7 linked regions of the Homo sapiens genome follow. The protein of the gene in region 4 purifies or fractionates together with the protein of the main gene of each other region. This does not show direct contact. Each region holds a gene or a part of one and is shown on either strand. Other genes may lie near its edges.

Region 1 (3,500 bases), on a different chromosome or scaffold from region 4:
GTCAGGAGTTCGACACCAGCCAGCCAACACGGTGAAACCCTGTCTCTACTAAAAATACAAAAATTAGCCGGGCATGGTGGCACACACCTGTAGTCCCAGCTACCTGGGAGGTTGAGGCAGGAGAATCACTTTAACCCAGGAGGCAGAGGTTACAGTGAGCCAAGACTGCACCACTGCACTCCAACCTGGGTGACTGAGCAAGACTCCATCTCAAAAGAAAAAAAATATATATATAAAAATGTAGGGGCATGCTTTTATTTTGTTTTATTTGTAGGGGCATACTTTTATTGACACTTTGTGCTTGGTAAAGGAACGGCTCCTGAGAAGCTGGTAAATACAATGAATAGGCAAAAATCCAGTAATGTTGGCACTCAGGTTGCTGGTGACAGGGACCCGAACTGCATGAGCTGTGACAACCTAAAAGGGAAAAATAGCATTAGTAATATAATAGAACTAAATATAAAATTATTTTGAAAGAGAGATTAGTAAGTAGACTGTCAACACCTAATACAAGTGTGGTCCCTAGAAATGAATGATGAAAATAAATTATTACATGTTTTAATTGTCTTTGAATGCTGAGGAAATGTACATTTAGGGATTTATATAATTCCCTAATTTTTTGTTTATAAACATAGATACATACACAGTGGTGTGATAAGGTAAAAAAATAAAATAAAATTTTGAAGCATACAATCTGGGCTCAATGACTTTGAAGAAGTCATTTATCTTCTGAATCTTTTTCACATCTACAAAACAGGACACTGCCATACCTGCCTCAAAGCATTGTTATGGGGGGAAAATATTCTTTTTGGAAAAACATCATATGAACTATAAAGCACCACATAAATATAAACAGAAATATTTATTCTCAATATGTCATGCATAGGCTCTAATCGTCTTTTAAAGACCCTCTTCAAAGTTGTCTTCCAATTGGTTCAAATTTAAAGACAAAAAATAACTTATGATTCTCCCACATGCTGTGTGACTACTTGTAATTCAGGAGTATATGTGCATATGCGTGTTGAGGGTGGGAGGGATAGTAAAATATAGAAATAAAGATATTAATAGCCACAAAAAAGCAACAACTGGCCGGGTGCAGTGGCTCATGCCTGTAACCCCAGCACTCTGGGAGGCTGAGGTGGGTGGATCACCTGAGGTCAGGAGTTCAAGACCAGCCTGGTCAACGTGGTAAAACCCCATCTCTACTAAAAATACAAAAATTAGGCGTGGTGGTGTGCACCTCTAATCCTAGCTACTTGGGAGGCTGAGGCAGGAGAATTGCTCCAACCCAGGAGGCAGAGGTTGCAGTAAGCTATGACCATACCACTGTATACTAGCCTGGGTGACAAAGTGAGATAAAAAAAAAAAAGAAATGAAAAAAATCCTTATGCTTATCCATGGACAAAAGTGCTAAGGCTAAAGAAGAACATGTTAAGTATAAGAAATTTAGACTCTAGCCTGTAATCTAGTTAGAAATGAATTTTACAGCCTAAAGGTTTAAATAGGACTTCATTTTATCTTTCTCCAGACACATTAAAACAATTACCCCTTGAGATGCCCTACCAGCAACATCTAAGAGTATTCTCCTAAGTATCTACTCAAAGTCTCCAAAAATACATAAATTCAAAAGATGCCTTGGTATGTTATGACTAGTTTTAAAAGTGTATTTTAAATGGATTATTCTTTAAGAAAGTTTCAAAGATGAAATAAATCATCATGAGTTTAAAAAGAAAAAAGACCATATTATTTTCTTAAGGTAAGACACACAAGTTTTCTCCCAAAGAATATTGTAAAAGAAAGTTAAATAAGTACCTAAGAATAAAAAGAAATACCTGCTCAGTAAAAATTTCCTGTGTGAAGATTGTCTTCATCCTGCTCAAGGAGCTTGGCTTAATTACAATCTAAAATTACCAAAAGAATTCCAACAGCATGTAAAAATATATGAAACACAATTTATTCTAGGGAACTTATCTAAAATGGCTATGATACACATAAATGTTCAAATGTTCAAGTACTCTACTCTGTTTTAGAAGTGCTTTCCCAAACCCAACATTAAAGTGTTAATACTCAAAAACAGAACCAATATAAAAAGCACTTAATAAATACTATTATTGGCATTTTCAGTCGGTTGGGGGAAACAGATTATTTACTACATGGAGCTAGGATAGCTGCCCCTCTGTGAGGCCAAGAGAAATATGTGTGTGTGTGTATGTGTGTGTCTGTGTCTGTATATACGCACATATACACACACAAATATATGTATATATGTATATGTACAGATAGACACACATACACTTTTTGCACATATCACACCATACACCAAAAGAAACTCCAAGTAGATTAAAATGTTCAAATGTAAAACATGAAACCACCAAAAAAAACTAGAAGAAAATATAAGTGACCACTTATATAAACCCAAGAAAGGAAAACATTTCTAAGCATAAGAGCAAAATAGAAAACACAAAAAGAACATTTACAGCCAGGTGCAGTGGTTCACGCCTGTAATCCCAGCACTTTGGGAGGCCGAGGAGGGCAGATCACAAGGTCAGGAGATCGACACCATCCTGGCTAACACAGTGAAACCCCATCTCTACTAAAAATACAAAAATTAGCCGGGCGTGGCGGTATGTGCCTGTAGTCCCAGCTGCTGGGGAGGCTGAGGCAGGAGAATGGCATGAACCTGGGAGACGGAGCTTGCAGTGAGCCGAGATCGCACCACTGCACTCTAGCCTGGGCGACAGAGCAAGACTCCATCTCAAAAAAAAAAAACAAAAAAAAAACATTTAATATACTACATAAAAATAATAATGATAATAATTTCCACATGGCGAAGTTAAATGGCAAAAAATACTGGAAAAAGTCAATTATAACATATTGAACTCTCCACTTTTAAAGATACTATAAGATATGTCACTGATTTAATATTACAGTAGCTTTTCAAGAAAAAAGTAGGAGTTGGAACACTACCACTTTCATATTACATGTCAACTGTAAAATGAATCCCAATTTCAATACTGGGTAAAATATACGTCTTGAAATATATGAAGTAAGATGTATAAGGCATAATGACATATCTTTCCTTTTGAATCAGTGAAAGAAAAAAATAAATCAAAGTCCCTACAGGAAAATTAGGATACTGATCAGCTTTTCACAAAAGAAATAAACAAGCCAAAACACATAAATTTTAAATACTAAGTTTCACTAGTAATCAAAGAAATTCAAACTAAGTGATACCACTGTTCATCAACCAAATTTGCAAAGATTAAAAAAAAATAGTAATGCTCAGTCATGTTGAAAGTTTAGAAAAACAGTAGTTCTTACTAACGGTAAGAGTTAAACTGATACAATCTTTCGAAAAGATAATCTGACAGTACTCATGAAACACCTTAACATAGTCATACACTTTTCCTTAGCAATTACCTTCTAGAAATTTATCCTAAGAAAATAATCCAACAGGTGTATGAAGAGATACATGTGGGTGCCTATGTGTGTATTTACAT
Region 2 (3,500 bases), on a different chromosome or scaffold from region 4:
CTTCCTGCATCTCATCTGCGAGGATTTTTCAACAGCAGTCTTCTCTGTTGGGCAGAAGCTCTGGAGGGGAGGGCCCTCATCTGTCTGGGGTCACCACTGTATCTTCAGGGCCTGGCGCAACACCTGGTACTCAGCAAGCACTGGATAAACGTCTGTTCAGAAAGGAACGTGTATTGTCCTCATCTGCAGTGCCTCCCATACCCCTCCGCTGCCTGGCAAACTCCTACCCAACCTTTAAAGCCCATCTTAAATATCCCTATGTGAGGCCTGCCAAGACTCTCCAACAGTGTTCTGTGTTCCTGCAGCCCTTGAGCTTCTCTTACAGTACTCGTCAGGATGTATGAAAACACCTGCTTACACGTGTGTCTATCCAACACTGCACTGCCAGCTCCACCAGGGCAAGAACGTAGCTCATTCCCCTACGTTTCCCAGAGCCTAAAAGCAGAGTCTGCCTCATGGCAGTCACTCAGGAGTGCCAGGCTTTGAAAAGTATTCGAGAAGGCCGGCATGGTGGCTCACGCCTGTAATCCCAGCACTTTGGGAGGCCGAGGCAATTGGATCACTTGAGCTCAGGAATTCAAGACCAGCCTGGCCAACATGGCAAGACGCCGTCTCTACAAAAAATACAAAAATTAGTTGGGCACGGCGGTACATGCCTGTGGTCCCAGCTACTCAGGAGATTAAAGGTGGTGGGATCACTTAAGCCTGGGGGCAAAGGTTGCAGTAAGCCGAGATCATGCCACCAGCCTGGGTGACAGAGCAAGATCCTGACTCAAATTAAAACAAAAAAACAAAAATGAAGTGACTTGCCCCAAGGCCTACGGTCAATCATTTGTGCAGAAGCAGGGCTTAAATTCTGGCTGATCTCAGCACCCTCTCCTGTGCGCCATGTCAATGCTGCATGCTTGACATAGATTAACACGTCCCTTGCAATCCTATGATGGGAGTTTTACAGATGAATAAACTGAGATTTCGAGGTTAAGCAATTTGTGCCAAACTACACAGTAAGTGGCAGTGTCTGCCCAGAACACTCATTGCCTTCAAGGGTGAGCTCTTTGGACTTTGTATCCACAGGGCTGAGCTTATAATGAGTTCATTTCCATTCTTGGTTCACAATGAACTTTCTTTCTAGCAAGCTCAGGGTATGGTAGGGCTCAGAGAGCCCCAGCCTGCCAGGGTGGGTTCTATCTCTAGCCTCCTAGAAGGCTTGTGTTGGCCTCATTCACAGCCTTCTTGGAGCGTTTCACAGTCCAATTTCCAGCATGGACTTATCCACTAGGCCAGCACAAGACACCACATGGGCCCATCCCTGGCCTCCCTGGGTGGCCTCCTGGCTCATCCCGTGTGTGGCTTACATGAATCTTATAGAGCAACATGGAGAAGTCTCATCTTGAGCATCCAAAAGACCTCAGGGGCCTCATATCCTGGCTTCTCATAAAGGCCAGTGGAAAGGCCTCCCAGGAGACCATTTATTGCCCTACTATAAAACTGGCTTCCACTGGGGCTCTATGTACCAGCTTTGTAAACCTGTCTCTTGATGGCCTTAGAAAACAGCCTCCCAGAGGGTTTCAAATGGGCTATAAACCTGTTCTCTGCAATGCAGATTACGGGCTTTGTAAATTGGTGTTTCAGGGTGACCTTATAAAACGGCCCCTCACAGGGCGCCTATCAGCCTTACCAAGCCAGCTTCTCAAGGTGGCCTCACGTGTGCGGCTTTGTAGCCAGGTTCCCCCAGTGGCCCCGTGTCTGCTTTGTCACCTGGCCTCCCAGGGTGGCCTCATGTTTGGTCTTCATAGGCGGCCTATCTGCTACTTTGCAAATCGGCCTTGGAGACCTCATGTTGAAGGCCAATGGACACAGCCTTCTGGGAAAGATGGCCTCCTAATACTGTGAGTTGGCTGTACAAAACTATCTGCTCTTGGCCACATGAAATAGCCTTATGATTATTCTTTAATGCAGAGTTCTTCAATGAACGGCCTTATCAAAAGGCCTTCAGAGATACTTACGTTGACAATATATGATGGTTTTCCAGAGACAGAGGCTTCAGGATGGCTGTATAAGTTTGTTTTCAAAATGGCTTTTCAGATTGCCTCTGTATAAGCCACTTGAAATGGCCTCCCCAAAGGCCTCAAGATTATTATACACTATCCCCCAGCAGGGCACCTATAATCCCAGCTACTCGGGAGTCTGAAACAGGAGGACTGCTTGAGCCCAAGAATTCGAGACCAGCCTGGGCAACATGTAAAGACCCTGTCTCTAAAAACAATTAAAAAATTAGTTAGCTGGTCATGGTGGCACACACCTGTAGCCCCAGCTACTCCGGGAGCTGAAGCAGGAAGATTGCTTGAGCTCAGGAGTTTAAGGCTGCAAGTGAACTGTGTTTGTGCCTCTGCACTCCCATCTGGGTGACAGAGTGAGACCCTGTTTCAAAAAATAAAACTATAGCCTCCTACAAGGCCTTATGTTGGCAGCATGGTGAAGTGGCATTCTGGCCGCATCAGTCTTCTGCCTTGTTGCATAGGCTTCCCCAAACCTCTCATGATTTGGCCTTTTATGTAGTTACCATATCAAACAGCCACATCCTGGTATAGGAAGCAGTCTTCCAAAGCAGTTTTGTGAGATGGAGTCTTGCTCTGTCACCCAGTCTGGAGTGCAGTGATGCGATCTCGGCTCACTGCAAACTCCACCTCCCAGGTTCAAGTGATTCTCCTGCCTCAGCCTCTGAGTAGCTGGGACCACAGGCACGCATGCCATCACGCCCGACTAATTTTTGTATTTTTAGTAGAGACGGGGTTTCGCCATGTTGGCCAGGCTGGTCTCCAACTCCTGACCACAAGTGATCCACCCACCTCAGCCTCCTAAAGTGCCGGGATTACAGGTGTGAGCCACCACGCCCGGCCCTTGTAACTTGTTTTAAAAACTGGCCTTCCTATAGATGGGGGCTTGTCTGAGGACCAGGTGAAGTCAGATTTTGTCTTAGTTTTACAAATCGATCTGTGGTTTCTTCATTGTGCCAGGAAAGAATTGTTTGTTGTGTCCATCTACCCCGCTGGGAGCAGCCTCACATTGGCTCCTGTTAGCCATGCAAAATGGCCTTACAGAAGGAGTCTTGGTCTGGCTGGGGAAACACTCTCTTGCTGGCTGTATGAAACAATCTTCCAGGGTCACTGGCCTCATGGGCTATGAGAAGCAGCCTTCACACCACCAACCACTTGAGATGGCCCTCCTGGGAAGGTCAGGTGCGAGCCACAGGTCACTGCCTTTCTGAATGGCCTCAGGTCCAGGCTCATCAGCCTTCTGGCATTTCCCATATACTGGTCTGATAAAAAGGCTTCTTGTTGTATCAAGAGGTTTTCTAGAGGAAAGGACTAGCCAGAGTAGCCTTATGGCCTGGCTTTATTGATTGGCTTCCCAGAACTCCTCACTGAATTGCTGTTTATAAAGTCTTATATTAAGGCCACGTGCATCGCTCACGCCTGTCATCCTAGCACTTTGGGAGG
Region 3 (3,500 bases), on a different chromosome or scaffold from region 4:
TGGCGTGATCATGGCTCACTGCAGCCTCAAACTCCTGGGCTAAAGCAATCCTCCTGCCTCAACCTCCCAGGGTAGCTGAGACTACAGGCACATGCCATTATACCTGGCTAATTTTTTTAAAAAAAAGGTTAGTAGAAATGAGGTCTCATTGTGTTTCCCAGGCTAATCACTTATTTTTGATGTGATACAAGGTGAATGTGGGGATTGGTAGGAAATATGATTGAAAAACAGAAACAATAGGAAGGACCTTGTATATCAAGCCAGAACACTTGAGGCAATGAGGGAAACTGGAGGTATTAAAATTAGTTGGAGGGAATCAGAAAAGACAATCAGTAGACACTAATATCAAGAGGTATCTGAGGTTAGGTATTATTAGATGATGTTAGAGCAACCATCATAAAAATGATTCAACAAGCAATTCTGAACACATTTGAAACAAACGAAAAAGCAGGAAGTCTCTGCAAAGAAACAGAAGATACAAATAAAAAAACATGGAAATTTTAGAACTGAAAAATATAATAAATGAAATAAACTCAATGTTGGGCAGCAGAACGAATGTAACAGAGGAAGGAATCAATCAACTAGAAGATGAAACAAAGGACATTACCCAATCTTAACAGAGACAAAATATACTGGAAAAGAAGTGAACAGAGCCTCAAAGACCTTGTGAAATGATAATAAAAGATAAAATGTAGATGTCATAGAATTATGGCAGATTTCCGTCAGAAACCATGGAGGTCAGAAGGAAGTGGCATGGCATTTTTCAGGTGCTGAAAGAAAGAAAACTGTCTACCTAGAATCCTATTTCTAGGAAAATATCCTGCAAGAATGAAGAGAAAATTAATACACTCTCAGATGAAGACAAACTAAGAGAATTTGTCTCACTAGACTTACCTTAAAAGAATGGCTAAATAAAGTTCTTGAAAAAAAAAAACAGTAAAAGAAATCTTAGAAGATCAGAAGGAGAAAAGAACAGAAAGAATAAAAACATGGGCACATACAACAGACTTTGCTTTTCTTAGTTTTCTAAATTATGTTTGATGGTTGAAGCAAAAATTATAACATTATCTGATGAAGTTTTCTATGTCTGCAGAAGAATAGTTAAGAAAATTATAAATACGGAAGGGTAAAGGAATATAAAAGAAATAAGAATTCTTTTTTTTTTTCTGCATCCAATCATCCATTAGGGAAATAAAGATTCTATACTTCATTTAATCTGCAAGATGTTGAAATCAGTAGATTGTAATAAGTTATATACGTAAGATGTAATAACCAGAGCAACTACTAAATATCTATGCAACGAGATATATTAAAAAGTAACATCAAAATGAAATACCAAAAAATTGTTTCAGTAACCACAGGAAGACAGGAACTTTGATACAAGCAACAATTTGGATGGATCCAAGTTGAGGGCATTATGCTCTGTGAAAAAAGCCAGTTAAAAAGTCACATACAGATCGAGACCATCCTGGCTAAACACAGTGAAACCCCATCTCTACTAAAAATACAAAAAAAAATTAGCTGGGCTTGGTGGCGGGTGCCTGTAGTCCCACCTACTCAGGAGGCTGAGGCAGGAGAATGGCGTGAACCCGGGAGGCAGAGCTTGCAATGAGCCAAGATTGAGCCACTGCACTCCAGCCTGGGCAACAGAGCAAGACTCCGTCTCAAAAAAAAAAAAAAAAAAAAAGTCACATACTGTATGACTATCTATATAACATCCTCAAAATGACAAAATTATGGAGATGGAGAAGAGATTACTCACTGCCAGGGGTTAGGGACAGTCCGGGTAGGGGGAGGGCAGTGTGACTATACAGGGTAGCATGAGGAAAAGTGATAAAACAGTTTTGTGTCTTTTTGTTTTGTTTTTTTTGAGATGGAGTCTCGCTGCAACGCCCAGGCTGGAGTGCAATGGCATGACCTCAGCTCACTGCAACCTCCACTTCCTGGGTTCAAGCGATTCTGCTGCCTCAGCCTCCCGAGTAGCTGGGACTACAGGCACGCGCCACCACACCCAGCTAATTTTTGTATTTTTAGTAGAGACAGCGTTTTACCATATTGGCCAGGCAGGTCTCGAACTCTTGACCTCAAGTGATCTGCCCACCTCTAGCCTCACAAAGTGCTGGGGTTACAGGCATGAGCCACCGCACCTGGCACAGTTTTGTGTCTTGATCATGTGGTTGCATGGATCTATAGATGTGGCAAAATGTCACAGAACTATGTGCACACATTGTACTAATGTCAATTTTCTGTTTTCTATGCTCTTTCCCCATGTGGTCTACCTCCATCACTACAGCTTTTTTTTTTTTTTTTTTTTTGAGACGGAGTCTCACTCTGTCATCCAGGCTGGAGTGCACTGGCTCGACCTTGGCTCACTGCAACCTCCACCTCCTGGGTTCAAGTGATTCTCCTGCCTCAGCCTCTCGAGTAGCTCGGACTATAGGAGAATGCCACCATGCCTGGCTAATTTTTGTATTTTTAGTAGAGACAGGGTTTCGCCATGTTGGCCAGGCTGGTCTCAAACTCCCAACCTCAGGTGATCCATCCGCCTCAGCCTCCCAAAGTGCTGGGATTTCTTAATACACGTCTCTTTTCCCGACTTTGCTTCTGCCCTTCTAAATGCCTGCATGACGGAGCTAATTGGATATCTTGTTGCTACTCTAATCTCAGCATATCTTAGATTTAGTCTGTCACCTCCCCTCTCTGACCTCTCATTATTGTTTTTCCACCTTTCTACTTGTCACCTCCAGGCAAACATCAGTCATCCTTTATTCTTTCTTCTCCATGGCCTCTTATTACCCATCACTTGATTTGTCTTACATGATTCTTTCTTAAATTTATTTCTATTCTCACTGTCACCATGACAGATCAGAAGCAGTCATGAACTCTTGCTTGAAACTTGACAAGAACTTACTGATGGACCATTAGGCTTCCAAACTCTCATCTTATTCACCAACCTTATCTAGTCTGTAGAGCTAATATCAGAAGATCCTTTGACACAAAAAATTGAAGTGACTGTACAGAGGACAAGAAGGGGAAATATAAAGAGATTTGAATGGAAGTCAAACAAGATATTTCTCTGCAAGCAGTTAAACATATTCAACTTATAGGCGACAACGTGTCTTTTTCTCTCATTAGAAGTGCAAAATACGTACCTTAACTCTTCGGCCAATGCTAAGGAATTGACACGTTTTATCGTAAAGTCCTTCCAGGTTTTCTCTGTCCCAGTAGAAATCAGGAGTAATCAGGAAGTCTGAACTCAAGTTTATACGGTGCCTTTAAAAAGGAAAATTATAACTTTTTATTTATCTTGAATTAAAAATCATTGTTTCTATTGTATTTAATATTTACATAGTGCTTTATGAAAACTTTTTTTTTTTTGGTAAGAGAGAGGGTCTTGCTATGTTACCCGGGATGGAGTGCAGTGGTGTGATCACAACTCACTGCAAACTGAACTCCTGGGCTCAAGCTGTTCTCCTGCCTCAGCCTCCCATGTAGCTGGA
Region 4 (3,500 bases):
CAGCCAAGGGCCCAGCAGTGGCTCCTCTGGGGTCTCCTTAAAAGGTGGCTCGCTGCCCCTGGCTTGCCCCAGGCTATGGGTCGGACGTTCCTGGAGTAAAGCCTGACTTTATGTATTTTATAAAACACAAATAATTTTCATGAGCACTGGTGGTTAACATCAACTCTTTGGAGCTTTTTGTGTTTGTTTATTTAAAATGGAAGCTGTCTCTCATTTTCATCCAAAGAGATTTCTTCCCTGGGGCGGTCAACAAGTCTTGGCAAGTGCTAGATCCCTGGTTTAGTTTTTGCCATAGCTTGGCTGTTACTGCAAAGAAAAGTCCTCTCACTAAGCCCTGTGAGTTTGCATGCATGCCTGTGTGCTTCTGTGAGTGCTGTGGACCCTGTGTGTTCCAATAATGGATCCTGGGGCTCAGTAAACACAGTGGCTAAAAGGACATCTATGCTGATGAAATCGTCTCTGCCTGCAGTGTCCCATACGGTAGCCACTAGCCATGTGTGGCCCCTGATTCTGTAACAGGAGGCTAGTCCAAAGTGAGAGGTCCTGTTAGGTGTAAAATACACACTAGATTTTGAAGGCTTAGGACAAAAAAGTATGTAACGTTTCTTATTAGTCACTTTTATATAAATTACATATTGAAATGTTAATATTTTACATAGGCTGGACATGATGGCTCATGTCTATAATCCTAGCACTTTTGGAGGCCAAGGCAGGCAGACTGCTTAGCCTAGGAGTTTGAGACCAGCCTGGGTAACATGGTGAAACCTCATCTCTACTAAAAATATTGAATATTAGCCAGGCATGGTGGCACGTGCCTATAGTCCCAGCTACTCAGAAGGCTGAGGTGGGAGAATCACCTGAGGCTGGGAAGTGGAGGCTGCAGTGAGCCGTGATCGCACCACTGCACTCCAGCTTGGGCTATGGGAGTGAGACCATGTCTCAATAGAAAAAAAAAAAAATTAGCTATATCAGGTTAAATAAAAGATATTGTTAGAATTAATCTCCCTTGTTTCATTTTATTTTAAAATGTGACTACTAGCGGAAAGGCCTGAAATGTTGTGGTTCTAACTTCAGGGCCTTTGCTCTGTTGCCTCTGCCTGGAGTGCTTTTTCTTCTGAGCTTAGCCTACCTATTTTTCCTTGTCGTTTGGGTCTCAGCTCAAAGGTTATCTATTTCAAGAGGCCCTTTTTATTTTTATTTATTCACTTTCTTAGAGACAGGGTCTCGCTCTGTCACTCAGGCTAGAGTGGAGTGATGTGATCATACTTCACTGCAGCCTCAACCTCCCGGGCTCAACCAATCCTCCAGCTGAGGCTGGAGTAGCTCCAGAGCAGCTGGGACGATAAGTGCATGCCACCATGCCCAGCTAATTTTTAATTTTTTAGAAATGGGGTTTCAGTGTGTTTCCCAGGCTGATCTCAAACTGCTGGACTCAAGTGATCCTCCTGCCTTGGCCTCCAGAAGTGCTGAGATTACAGGCATGAGTCACTGCGCCTGGCCCAAGAGTCCCCTCTTGACCACCCACTCAAAAGAAGCCCCCTGGTTACTCCTAATCCCACCTCTTTACTGTACTTTTTTCACAACAGTTCCCATGGTTTGCTATGTCCTTGTTTATCTGTGTTTATTTTTCTTGTATGTTATCTGGTGCCCCCTCTAGAATGGTAGCTCCAGGGGAACAGGAATTTCCATTATCTGGTTAACATCATGTCAACCAGACACAATGCTTAGAATAATGCCTAGAAGAAGAGGAGCTTAAGCAATGTTTGTTGGATGGAGGGATGGGTGGGTGGCGAGGTGGATGGGTGGATGACTGGATGTGTTGGGAATGACTAAATTTTATTTTTTGGCCATTTTCATAATAGTGATATTTCTTTTTCTCTTCCTTAGGTCTTGAAAGGGGACTATAAAACACCAGCCAATCTGAAAGGATATTTTCAGGTTAGAAACCCCAAGGGGAATTCCGAATTCTGTCTTTCTCAGCTATACCACCATCTGGCTGTATGCCCTTAGATGTGTCACTTCTCCACTCTGGTTGATGGTTTTCCCATTATAAAAAGGGGGATGTGAGCTGGCTGCCTGTAATCCCAGCACTTTGGGAGGCCAAGGCAGGCAGATCACGAGGTCAGGAGTTCAAGACCAGCCTGACCAAAACGGTGAAACCCCGTCTCTACTAAAAATACAAAAATTATCCGGGCGTAGTGGCACACACCTGTAATCCCAGCTACTTGGGAGGCTGAGGCAGGAGAATCGCTTGACCCTGGGAGGCAGAGGTCGCAGTGAGCTGAGATCACGCCGTTGCACTGTAGCCCGAGCGACAGAGCGAGACTCCATCTCAAAAAATAAAAATAAAAAATAAAGGGCTGTGGGGATGCGTGCTGGACCAGAGGGTCTCTAAGCACTGATCCAGCTGGGGCCACATCTCAGTGGCCCTTCTGCCAGGAAGCAGCCTCTCACTTCGTCTTCCGGCTTGAATGCAGTTGGAGGGACTTCGTGGGGACTTTTTCTTGGGCTTTCTTTCTTGTTGAGACTGGAGTGCAGTGGTGTGATCATGGCTCACTGCAGCCTCAATCTCCTGGGCTCAAGCAATCCTCTCACCTCAGCCCCTCAAGAAGCTGAGACTACAGACACACACCATCATGCCCGGCTAATTTTTGTGTTTTTTGTAGAGACAGGGTTTTGGCATGTTGTCCAAGCTTGAGTTGTATTATTTATAATAAACAGGTAGCAGTTAGTAAAGTGTTTTCCCTAGTGTCTTGTGAGCTGTTCTAGTGAATTATCAAACCAGAGTGGGGGTTGTGGGAACCTCCAGATTTGAAGTTGGCTGGGAAGAAGTGTGGATAGCCTGCGCACCCCATTGCAGCTGGCATCTAAAGTGGGGCAGTCGTGGAACTGGGCCCTTAATCTGTGGCAGCTGATGCTAAGTAAGTCTGGGAGCTGGTGTCAGAACTGAACTGAATTGTTGAACACCCAGTTGGTATCCAGATAATCAGAGAATTGGTCACTGATATTGGAAAGCACCCATAAGCCAATATCTGAAGGATTAAAACTAGGTCTGCCACACAAAGATCTGGATAGAAAAGGCTTCCCGGCAGAGGGAACTGTAAACGCCTGAAAGTGGGGAGTGTGGCCGAAACCTCTGGAGTGCGTATGCACTTTTGCATTCGTTGCAATTATATTTTTCTTTGTTTCTACCCCAATGTGATTTACAGGAATGTTCATTGCAATTTTCATGTTCAAACTGCCTTGTTTTGCTTTCTTAATATTTTCCTATCTTTTGAGTTTCACCGGCACCATTTTGGATGGCTACGTAGTGTTCTGTGGAATGCATGTGCTACCATTTACTAAACAGCTTCTTCAAGACCATTTCCAGTTTTTACAACATCCAGAATGACATTATGTGCACAGTGGAGGACAGTAGGGAGATGAGGGTTGGAAATAGAGGCTTGACAAAACTTATCTGCAGGGCAGCCCTCCTGAGCGTGGGGGTATGCCATTCCTTC
Region 5 (3,500 bases), on a different chromosome or scaffold from region 4:
GTCTCTTCCTCTGGAGCTCCTTGCTTTGTCCCTCCATCATGTGCAATCCAGAGAGGACCACCAGGTCTGGCTGAAACTCCTCCAGGCTAGACACAAACACCTCCAGCATATTCATGGCCCCGTTGGAGAGGTCGTGAGAGAAGATGAATCGGTTGGCATGGGGAGCTTTTAACTGGCCCCACTCCTCCCCTGGAAAAACCCAGTCAACACAATGGGAAGAAAAGGAAGAGGCTTTAGGTCTCCTAGCTGTGGGGGCACTTTCAGGCACCTCACAGGAGCCTTGGCTCCAAGCAGGCTGGTTTCTGGCTGAGGAGACCCCAGCAACAATGGCCTAAGGTCAGCATGGCACTGCAAGAAACAAACCAAAAACCTAAACCCAAACCCAGCCAAGAAACAGAAACATAGTATGGGTGCTATATGCCTTTTTCAAGGTAATTAGCTCCCCCTGAGTCCCAGGAGAGCCCTACTTGAGCTCTCAAACACAGGAGAGACAGTACAGAATGGCAGCATGACTTCCAAATACCAGCATACAGTGTGCAGCACGCACGCCCTGCAGACAGTATAGGCTGTCATTGTTTAAAGCACATTCTTCCTCACAGCATTGCCCTGAGCATCTTTCATTCAGTTGGAACTTAAGCAGGCTGAATTTCTTCCCAACAGCCAAGCTCACTGCATCTCCTCTTCCCTGCTGCCCATCAGTGGTTTCTGGGCACCTGATCCAAAGGATCAGACTATCTAGCTGCTCCAGTTGCTTCTATGTGAGTTGCTTTAGAGGAATGACTGTTTAAAGACCCAAGTTCAAGTGCTAGTTCCTCCCTAAACATGAAGCCTTTCCTAATCCTACCACCCCTAAGCAGACTTGATTACCTCCTTTCTGGGGCCACCACTGTACCCTAATACAGGACTGAGGCACATGATTTTGCAATTCCTTTTTCTTTTTTCCTTTTTTTTTTTTTTTTTTCTTCTGAGATGGAGTTTCACTCTGTTGCCCAGGTTGGAGCGCAATGGCGCGACCTCAGCTCACTGCAACCTCTGCCTCCCAGGTTCAAGCGATTCTCCTGCCTCAGCCTCCCGAGTAGCTGGGATTACAGGTACCCGCCACCACGCCTGGCTAATTTTTGTATTTTCAGTAGAGACGGAGTTTCACCATGTTGGCCAGGCTGGTCTTAAACTCCTGACCTCAGGTGATCTGCCTGCCTTAGCCTCCCAAAGTGCTGGGATTACAGGCGTGAGCCACCATGCCCGGCCTGCAATTACTTTTTCCAAGTGTCTATCTCTGGCAGTAAACTGTGAGCTGAGGGCAGGGCCTGTGTCATCCTCTGTCGTATTCCTTCTGCATCATGCTGTGTCTGGCATATAGCCATGGGAATGAATTAACAAAAGAACAAGCAAATAAGAGAACAGACTGATGACCTAAATGCCCATGACAACAAAAAATATGGGTATGAACCCCAAATCCAACATTTTGCAAATCAACAAAGACTCTGTACGATGGGAAAAATACATTACATTGACATTCTCCAGAGAGCAAGACGTGGACTCAACCCTTGAATAGTGACACTGCTAGGAAACACGACCTAACTGAACCTAGGAGAAAGGAGCCACACTGTATTGAAAATACACTGATTTCTTCAGGAAGTGACAGAGGCAAAAATAAACAGGCTCTTCTGCAAGGCAAGGATGAGAAGAACCGTGCAGAGCTGCTTGCTGTTTCCACAGGAAACAAGGCAGCAGATGCCAAGAGAGGCTGGAACCTGAAGAAAACCACCAGCTGAGATCTGTGAAATTCTGTAACAGTGCCATTACCTCCAAGAGTCTCTTCCTCTGGAGCTCCTTGCTTTGTCCCTCCATCATGTGCAATCCAGAAAGGACCACCAGGTCTGGCTGAAACTCCTCCAGGCTAGACACAAACACCTCCAGCATATTCATGGCCCCGTTGGAGAGGCCATGCAGGGGGCAGATGCAAATGGATCTAATTCTGCCTGTAATGGTAGTTAGCGCCCCTCTTTCCTCACAAAGTGTTGTATTCATTCCTGTAAGCAATCTCTTCTCAATGTATCATCCTGCCCTCAGCCAGTAAGTCAGCAAAACCTCTGCGTAGTGACTCACTGGATTCCCAGCCCAAGCCTGACAATGGGCTTCTCTGGGGAGATCTGGTAAGAGAGAATGTGGAAAAAAAAATGGACAAATCCCTTGGAATTTCCCTATTGAGGTCAGAGACAAGCTGGGAATGGATTTCTGTTGAGAGAGCTGAGCCCAGGGCTACTGCCACTAGACTAGGCTCCCTCCTTGGACCTAGGAAAATGTCACCTCACAAAGTTTAATGGAAGTCCACTGCTTTGTATGCAGAAGAGGCATAGGAAAGAAAAACTGAAGTGTGAAGCTTATAAACCCAAGGATGGAGACACTCTCTTTGTGCGGTGAACTGTGCTGTCTCCTTAACTACATACGAGGCACAGCTGTCCAATACAACATCAAAGTCTTGCTGAAGACGTAAGACTCTCCACTCTGTAGTCACCAGGAAAAATGACAAACCAGGAATCACAAAGGTCCCCAGTTCCTGCTGTGGGTGCCAAAAAAACTGACACGAATCTGGAACTCATGGCAGCAATACCTCAGGGGCTCATCTTTAGCAATTCCAGACCCTTCCAGTCCACAGTCAGGTCATTCTTTTATTTATTTATTATTATTATTTTTTGAGACGGAGTCTCGCTCTGTTGCCCAGACTGGAGTGCAGTGGTGCAATCTCAGTTCACTGCAACCTCCGCCTCCCAGGCTCAAGCAATTCTCTGCCTCAGCCTACTGAGTAGCTGGGATTATAGGCGCCCGCCTCCACACCTGGCTAATTTTTGTATTTTTAGTAGAGACGGGGTTTCACCATCTTGGCCAGGCTGGTCTTGAACTCCTGACCTTGTGATCCACCCGCTTCAGCCTCACAAAGTTCTGGGATTACAGGCATGAGCCACCACGTGCGGCCAGGTCATCTTTTCATCCAAGCTGCTCACAATGTTTCCGCACACCAACCAATCTCTTAATCCTTACCACAATGATCAGGCAGTAAAAACTATTACTCTTACTTCCCATTTGGGAAAACTAAAGCTGAGAAACTCAAAAACTTGTGTAGCATTAAGTATGAATTGCCTACGTCAACGCTGTGTCCCTAATTTTCAGACCCTATCCTTCTTTAATTCCCAACTGATTCTAGTAAGCACCCGAAAGAGAACCAGAACATGTTACAACTCTTTTTTCTACCTGGAGAAAGGCATAATTCTCAAGAAATAACATAGTTCATATCTTATGTTAAAGTTAATTACTCTAGTAGAGAAGATTCTCTTAATTGACTTGGAAGTAGTTCACTGAAGAGTATTAAGTGCTGCTTTAAGGTACCAATTAGTCTGTTTAGATGCTTGAGTCTTTAATGTGTATTAACAATGTGTTGAATCAGAAACTCAAGAGTCTGAGTTCTGAGCAGAGGGAAAATTACAGCAGGAAATACACAG
Region 6 (3,500 bases), on a different chromosome or scaffold from region 4:
TTTATACTATTCTTTCTAGCCCAATTAAAAGGCCTTTACATTTTCCACATTCCCAGATTTTAGCTTCCTTGAGTGATATTCCACATGAAAATGGGGAGGTATGTCACAATGGCAGACTTTAAAAATTATTACATAAACTTGAAAAGCACTTATGAATCTGTTATTTAGAATTTAGAACACGTTATTCCACAGGGAGGAAACCATAAACCTGAATTGGTACTTACACTGCACATATATTAATCTACAGTGTTATAATTAAACACAACATGCATATGCATAACTGAGTGCCTTCAGCATTTTCATATAAGATAGAACATTTACCTTGTAATTACTCCTAATGTACCTTAATGACACTGGATAAAAAAACTAAAACTTCAAATTCCACATCTGCTACTTGTATAAGACTACAAGGTAACCTCCTCCTGGAGGTTAAGTAGTGGAAAGAGAATTACCAAACTCTGTCACTTAACTTACCCCAGCAAGAATAGAATATTTTCAGCCCTCTAATCTTCCACATTAAGCTCTCTATTTTAATTTGTAAATTAGAAAATTAGAGATAAACCGTATATGTATCTTAACCCTGTTGGGAGTACAGAGCTCTTTGGCAGACATTTATATTTTTTCTAATCAGTTCCTCAATGACGATTACAATATGAGCTTCATATTCTCACTTGGGAAATTTTCATTAATTTGTTTTCATATAATTTGAAAACAAATACTTAGCTGTCTTCTTAGGAATAAACTGCCAACATTCAGAACAATGTATAATCTCCAACTCTAATCAAATTTTGAATCACAGATTCGTAAAACTGATAGCATCTGGTACAAGTGCCTCATTCTTAACAAAAAATTAAATGAATTAAGCCATATTCCAAAGCTAGTCAGTAGAACTAGGCCTAGAACCTAGATTCTGATTCTCTTTTCAGAGCTTTTGCTGCCATCCTTTACTACCAATTTAACCAAACCATATAACCTGGCCATTATTTATCAGCAATAAGACATTGATGAAATCAAAAGTTATACATACATCTCATCTGTGAAACGGAGCTAAAGGTACCTGCCTTTGAGGGGCCTGGGTGATTAAACTTGTTTGTATGACAAAGTACTCTGTAAAATGAAAAGCGCCATATACAATTATACATCATTTCTAACTACTTGGGGAAAGTAAAATGTGGCCATAAACCAATCACAAAGCTGTTTATCTAAGACTAGCCTCAACCTATGATTAAACAACTGCGGCAAAAGTCAAGTGACTGCACATTAGTGCTTCAGTTAGTAATAAAGGTATTAACAGATAAAAGTTATTACAGAAAAAATGTATTCTGACTAAACCAAAAGATGATTTAATTGTATATCTACATTCTTTATTCTTAAGAGCTGCCTTTTTAGCTTAACAAACGTGAATTAAAAGGTAATAAACAATGCCAAAAATATGGCATCTTCCTCTTAAGGAGACAATACACAAAATATTGGGAGGGCTACTGAGAAATTACTGACAAGGCTCTTCCACTCTAAAAGAAAAACAGTGAATGAAATGGCTCTTTGCTGTCTGGCCACACTTTAACGTTGTGGTGATAACTCAGAAAAGAAGTCCAGGGATATTTCTCAATACCCAGAGACAAAAAGCAGGGCTCATGACTATAGGGATACATGTAATAATACCATCTTAAATAGTTAGAGCATTTTAAACATTTTACCTTTCCTAAAGATTACATCTCATGAGATCTTTGTAATACTTTTATTAAGTAAATAAGGAATAGTCTGATACTCTAAGCTGAAAATCATCAAAATTAAAAACAAGCACAATATTATGTAGCATTTTCCTTATCTTTTATAATGAGGTCCATTTATGTTTATAAAACAAAAAGGTTCCATCAACTCAAATTAACTAGTTTATTTCTAGATTTTGATAACGATATTTCAAAGACAAAAAATCAACCCAAAGGTAAATAATGAACATCCTCTGGCCACTGCATACTACTGAGTTGGTTATCAAAAAAACAGTTTATCTATTTTGTAATTAATTTCCTGGCCATAAATTGCAAACTTTTTGATAATGTCCTTATGAATTTTTAAAATTAAATTTCAGTGTATGTATTTCCATACATATCCCTTTACCTCAGGGGGTAGTCTCTTTCTGTATCTTATTTTTTTCTTTTCTCACTTAGGGTCAACTTTCAGTTGACCTTCAGTATTCTCTGAAGTGTCTGCTCACAATTTAAAACTCTTATAAAAATTTTTTTTGGAGATAAGTAGTCCAGCTTGTTTTAAATTACTATCATTTTAAATCTGTGACACAAGGATAATTATGTAAAATGAAGATTTTTAAGAGATATAAATCTTTTAAGGAAAATAACTAAAAACAAATAGAAATCTTAACTAAAAATCTTATTTATACTAATAAAAATGCATTTAAATTGAGGCATTAAATAAAATCAGGTTTTACACCTTAAATCAAGGTAAATGACTTGTCAACTAATACATCACTTTAAATTTCACCTTAAAAATCAATCCAGTTAATGAACTGCATATCAAGAAGTATACATTTTATTGTTTATAAATTTAAAAAATTAACCTAGTTAAGAACAAATTGTTATTACAAAGCTATGTTTCTTTAAATAAATGGCAAATTTATCATTTTGGTAAATTTACTACCATTATAATACTTAATGTAGTTAGGATATCTTTCCACAATAACTTTAGGTAACTTTACTGCCATTTAATCATCCACAATCAGACTTCAAAATCAAGCTATTAAAATGAATGGGAATATGAACAACTTTTCTAATATGTATACATTCTCAAAAGAATCACTTATGTGATTGTTGTTTTAAGGAAAACTCAAATACTAAAACTTTGAGGCTTCAATTCCAGTCATTTTGGGCATTTCAACCTGAAAATAACAGATTAGAAATTAACTCTTAAATTTAGTACAAGCACAAGATACAATTTTGGTTTTTCAAAATGTCCATCAGAAAATAAGTATTTAACTTATATATATACATAGAAATATTTATTGAAATCTTACAAATTTCTATAAAGCCCCAAGAGGTCTCATATAAATAACACTGAGAATCTTCATTTTTATATCTAGACATACCATTATGAATATGGAAATGAAACTGCCATTTATCATAGAAGAATAGGAGCTGTTTTTGTAACTATTTATTATCCTTGCCATCAAATTTAGACCTAAGAGGCACTAAACATTGAAAGACAGGTACTAAGAACAAGTCAGAGATATACAATCTTTTACTTTAGAGGAACAGAGTCTCATGCTCCATTATTCATTTCTAACTAGACAGAATTCTGTGATTAGCCCTTAATTCAAGATGTTACAGATCAGCAAAACAGAATTAAGTCTGATTTTTGTTAAAAAAAAAAAATGCAGTCATTTTAGATACCAAAACTTCATCTAAAATGTGGAAAGGTGAATTTAGGTAACAGTGTCAACAATGTAAATTATAAACATTAGTCAGCTTATTTAAGACCAATCAATG
Region 7 (3,500 bases), on a different chromosome or scaffold from region 4:
AATGATATAACCAGAATTTCCATAAGATTTTTGCCATCTAAAAATAGTTTTAAGAAATGCTTGAATGCACAAAAGGTTAACTTTCCACAGAATCTTTTCTACTTCCCCATAATATTGTTTTTAAAAATTCTAGGCCGGGCACGGTGGCTCATGCCTGTAATCCCAGCACTTTGGAAGGCCAAGGTGGGTGGATCACTTGAGGTCAGGAGTTCAAGATCAGCCTGGCCAACATGCTGAAACCCCATCTCTACTAAAAATACAAAAATTAGCTGGGCTTGGTGGAATGCACCTGTAGTCCCAGCTACTCAGGAGGCTGAGACAGGAGAATTGCTTGAACTCAGGAGGCAGAGGCTGCAGTGAGCCAAGATCGCACCACTGCATTCCAGCCTGGGCAACAGAGCGAGACTCCATCTCAAAAAAAATAAAAATAAAAATATAAATAAAAATTCTATAATAGAATTTAAGAAATATTCCCCATAGACATGGATATACTGAAAAATCAGTACATTGTGATGTTGACCTGGATGAACAGTAACTCTTTTATACGTTTGTTTCCCTTTGTCAATATTTGACTTTGACATTTAAAAACACGTATTTAGCAACACAGTTGAAACCACAGTGAAAAATTACTCCTAGGTATATGAAAGTGTTATTATACATATGCATGAAATCCACATAGCACACAGACCTCCATTAAAAGTATACACATCTCAAAGTTCTCTCCCAATACCTGTTCCCACAAGAGATGTTAACATATGACCTTGAATCACACAGGTGACGCTGTCAGCCTGATGAGGGCAGAGATCTATTTTGAAAACAGAACTCGGAAAACTATGGGGCAACACTGCCTTGCCCTCAGAAAGGAAAGATTGTGTGAAGGGTAATCTTTCCCTGTATCTTCAGAAAAAGATGAGACACTTTGGCATCATAAAACTGTCCTTGAAAATGTTACTTCTGATAAAGTGTCGTAGTCCCAAAGACACTCAGACCCAGAAGCTATTGCTGCACGCTATGAAAGTAACCTTTACCATAAAATCTGACTAGTTGGCTCCCTTAATAATATATTGACTTGGCAATGATATTTAAAACTGACACCTCTGTTTTCTGAAAGAAATACATATTTGTGTGAGTTTTATTTTTTATATTACTTTCTTCTTCATCCACATGCATGAAAGTCAAAATAAATGAAAGCTTCAACCCCACCAGCTTTCTTATTTAAAACGAAAAACAAAAACAAAAAACGCTTGAGTCTTGACTCATTTAAATTAACACAGAAAAAGAAAAAATGACAGTATAAGTTCATTTTAAAATGAAAATTATAAGGATAACTGGAATTTTCAAAATCATACTTTTATTCCTGAAATTTTATCCTTAAATGTTACACATGATATATCCAGAACATCTTTAAAAACAATACTTACTGTAATTGCCAGGAGATTTTTCTTCATAAGTAAAATGAAGTTGTAATTCCTCCTCTGACATCTGACAGATGAACACTTTCAGCAAACAGCAAATAATAAACAAAGCATTGTGTGTCTGCCAAATGAAGATGTGGCTAGAAAGACCAAAATCATACAAGAATCAATATTTAAACATAAGCACCATAGTTTATTTCTAGTTCATGATTTCTTCCTGATTTGACAACCGTTTTGTCCATCCTATTGGTAATATTAGGATAATGTCCATATCTTTTAATGGCTCATGATTTATTTCATTGTACCAGTGATATTATGTTTTACTTCATAGTTCATTCCATGTACTTTACATAGTGAATCTACTTAATAAAAATCTTTACTGATGACTGTAGGAATGACTGTTCTTTGTTCTTAATAGGTATACCACGTACATGCGATTAAAAGAGAAGAAAGCTACCAAAAAATTTAAAAAATTGTGGTAACATAAAAAGAATATATGCAAATATGTAACCAAAATTTTCGACGAGGCATTGCCAGCAGCACGGTAAAATACTTTTTATTTGTATTAATGACCATGAACTCCCAAGAAAAACTTTATTGGATTCAATGTAATTTGTTTATAAGCAAGACAATGCAAAATATTTTAATCTTTTCAGAGACTGACATCCAAACATGGTTTTGAAAAATGCTTCAGTGCATAAAAAGTTAACCTTCCATTGATGTAAAGAATATAACGGAAATAACTGCAACAGATGTAGAATGAAATAAAACTCAGACTAAGTCATCATTTAAACTAGATAGCAGCAGCAGTGATAATGGGGGGGAGGGGAATTACCTTCTTAACGATAATTACATCATTATTCACCTTCTTAAAGAATATAATCTAAAGATTGTCTAAAAAGCTGAAATCAGATTCCCGAATCTATAATCTCACCCCAGTGACTTAGACACTAACCTAAAACCTCTCTACCTTTTTTTCTTAATAATGAGAATAATTCCTTCACAGAGATTTTCAAAAGACCACAGTCCATTTCCATCAATAAATGAAAACTAAAATTCACATTGTTAAATATAAAGCAAACATGGTTTAATTAGCCAGCTTACTTCTGACATTCTGCTGAAAGTTTTAGTTCTTTGGTTCTAGAAAGGAAGACCTTAATTAGTGCACCAAGATTTCCTGTTCGAGGATTGTTTTCAACTGCAAGAGAAGAAAAGGTTTTAAAAAGTTAAATTTAAGAACTAAAATCAAAGTGAGCTTATCATAACATTTATAAAACCAAATGTCATATTAAAATTGCTCAGTGACCAACTTTACTGTTAATTTCATACCTAATTAGAGAACTAAGCAATGAGAGAAACTGCTGCTCTTGGTCTTAATTCTGAACATCAAAAACTGATTTGCAAAATGAAAATGATAGAAACAGTACAAGTAGCCATCTTATCTCAGAATCCAAAATCATAAAGGAAAAAATAGTTAATAGACACATTCAACTTACACACTAAATCTTTCTCTAGAAAGGAGATTTTTAAAAACTCAAAAATTGATTATCTATGTCTCCAGTATATAGAATATAATAAACTATAAAAGTTTATTAAATCTAAAACACTCTTCAGATTACAAATCATTTGAATGAAAAATTAAGAAAACATATCAACAAAGCAGTGTGGCTAGAAGGGGAGCTATTTGACCAGACAAAACTTTAAAGAATTTTTTTTTAACTTTAAACGATGGGCATTTCAGCAACTGTATCAGGAATCAGAAGATTTAGTTTCTAGATCCAGGTCTATAATTAACTGAATACTGAATCTCAGACAAATCACTGTACTTCTCCAACCTCAGTTTTCTCATCTGTAAAAGAAACAACAGCTAACATATGCTGAACAACATAGAGTAGGTGCTTTACATGCATTAACTCATTTAATCCTCACACCAACCCTCCAGGAAAAGCACTAGTATCACTTGCATTTCACCGATCCTCACCTGGAGGTTGTTACTTGCTCAAGGAAACATCCTTATCAACTGGCTCAAATCTTTGACTTTAAACTGCTAGGTTGAAGCAACCTCTATAATCAAGAAATTGGACT

Evidence for each region.
Region 1: the proteins of TPST2 (region 4) and INTS2 purify together in Homo sapiens (affinity purification with mass spectrometry; one large-scale study listed by BioGRID and IntAct). This does not show direct contact.
Region 2: the proteins of TPST2 (region 4) and KDM8 purify together in Homo sapiens (affinity purification with mass spectrometry; one large-scale study listed by BioGRID and IntAct). This does not show direct contact.
Region 3: the proteins of TPST2 (region 4) and RMND1 purify together in Homo sapiens (affinity purification with mass spectrometry; one large-scale study listed by BioGRID and IntAct). This does not show direct contact.
Region 5: the proteins of TPST2 (region 4) and ADPGK purify together in Homo sapiens (affinity purification with mass spectrometry; one large-scale study listed by BioGRID and IntAct). This does not show direct contact.
Region 6: the proteins of TPST2 (region 4) and ARHGAP29 purify together in Homo sapiens (co-immunoprecipitation; one large-scale study listed by IntAct). This does not show direct contact.
Region 7: the proteins of TPST2 (region 4) and DYM purify together in Homo sapiens (affinity purification with mass spectrometry; one large-scale study listed by BioGRID and IntAct). This does not show direct contact.

Annotation. Positions count from the first base shown.
Region 1 is NC_000017.11:61,893,483-61,896,982, forward strand, and holds part of INTS2 (integrator complex subunit 2), read right to left. Parts: intron 1,902-3,500; coding exon 1,833-1,901; intron 418-1,832; coding exon 283-417; intron 1-282. UniProt on the Homo sapiens protein: Component of the integrator complex, a multiprotein complex that terminates RNA polymerase II (Pol II) transcription in the promoter-proximal region of genes.
Region 2 is NC_000016.10:27,206,526-27,210,025, reverse strand, and holds part of KDM8 (bifunctional peptidase and arginyl-hydroxylase JMJD5), read right to left. Parts: intron 1-3,500. UniProt on the Homo sapiens protein: Bifunctional enzyme that acts both as an endopeptidase and 2-oxoglutarate-dependent monooxygenase.
Region 3 is NC_000006.12:151,414,127-151,417,626, forward strand, and holds part of RMND1 (required for meiotic nuclear division protein 1 homolog), read right to left. Parts: intron 3,274-3,500; coding exon 3,153-3,273; intron 3,146-3,152; exon of another isoform or gene 2,955-3,145; intron 1,423-2,954; exon of another isoform or gene 1,292-1,422; intron 1-1,291. UniProt on the Homo sapiens protein: Required for mitochondrial translation, possibly by coordinating the assembly or maintenance of the mitochondrial ribosome.
Region 4 is NC_000022.11:26,531,133-26,534,632, reverse strand, and holds part of TPST2 (protein-tyrosine sulfotransferase 2), read left to right. Parts: intron 1-1,887; coding exon 1,888-1,938; intron 1,939-3,500. UniProt on the Homo sapiens protein: Catalyzes the O-sulfation of tyrosine residues within acidic motifs of polypeptides, using 3'-phosphoadenylyl sulfate (PAPS) as cosubstrate.
Region 5 is NC_000015.10:72,756,259-72,759,758, forward strand, and holds part of ADPGK (ADP-dependent glucokinase isoform 4 precursor), read right to left. Parts: intron 2,032-3,500; coding exon of another isoform or gene 1,807-2,031; intron 190-1,806; coding exon 1-189. UniProt on the Homo sapiens protein: Catalyzes the phosphorylation of D-glucose to D-glucose 6-phosphate using ADP as the phosphate donor. GDP and CDP can replace ADP, but with reduced efficiency.
Region 6 is NC_000001.11:94,227,585-94,231,084, forward strand, and holds part of ARHGAP29 (rho GTPase-activating protein 29), read right to left. Parts: intron 1-3,500. UniProt on the Homo sapiens protein: GTPase activator for the Rho-type GTPases by converting them to an inactive GDP-bound state. Has strong activity toward RHOA, and weaker activity toward RAC1 and CDC42. May act as a specific effector of RAP2A to regulate Rho.
Region 7 is NC_000018.10:49,377,146-49,380,645, forward strand, and holds part of DYM (dymeclin), read right to left. Parts: intron 2,614-3,500; coding exon 2,520-2,613; intron 1,556-2,519; coding exon 1,422-1,555; intron 1-1,421. UniProt on the Homo sapiens protein: Necessary for correct organization of Golgi apparatus. Involved in bone development.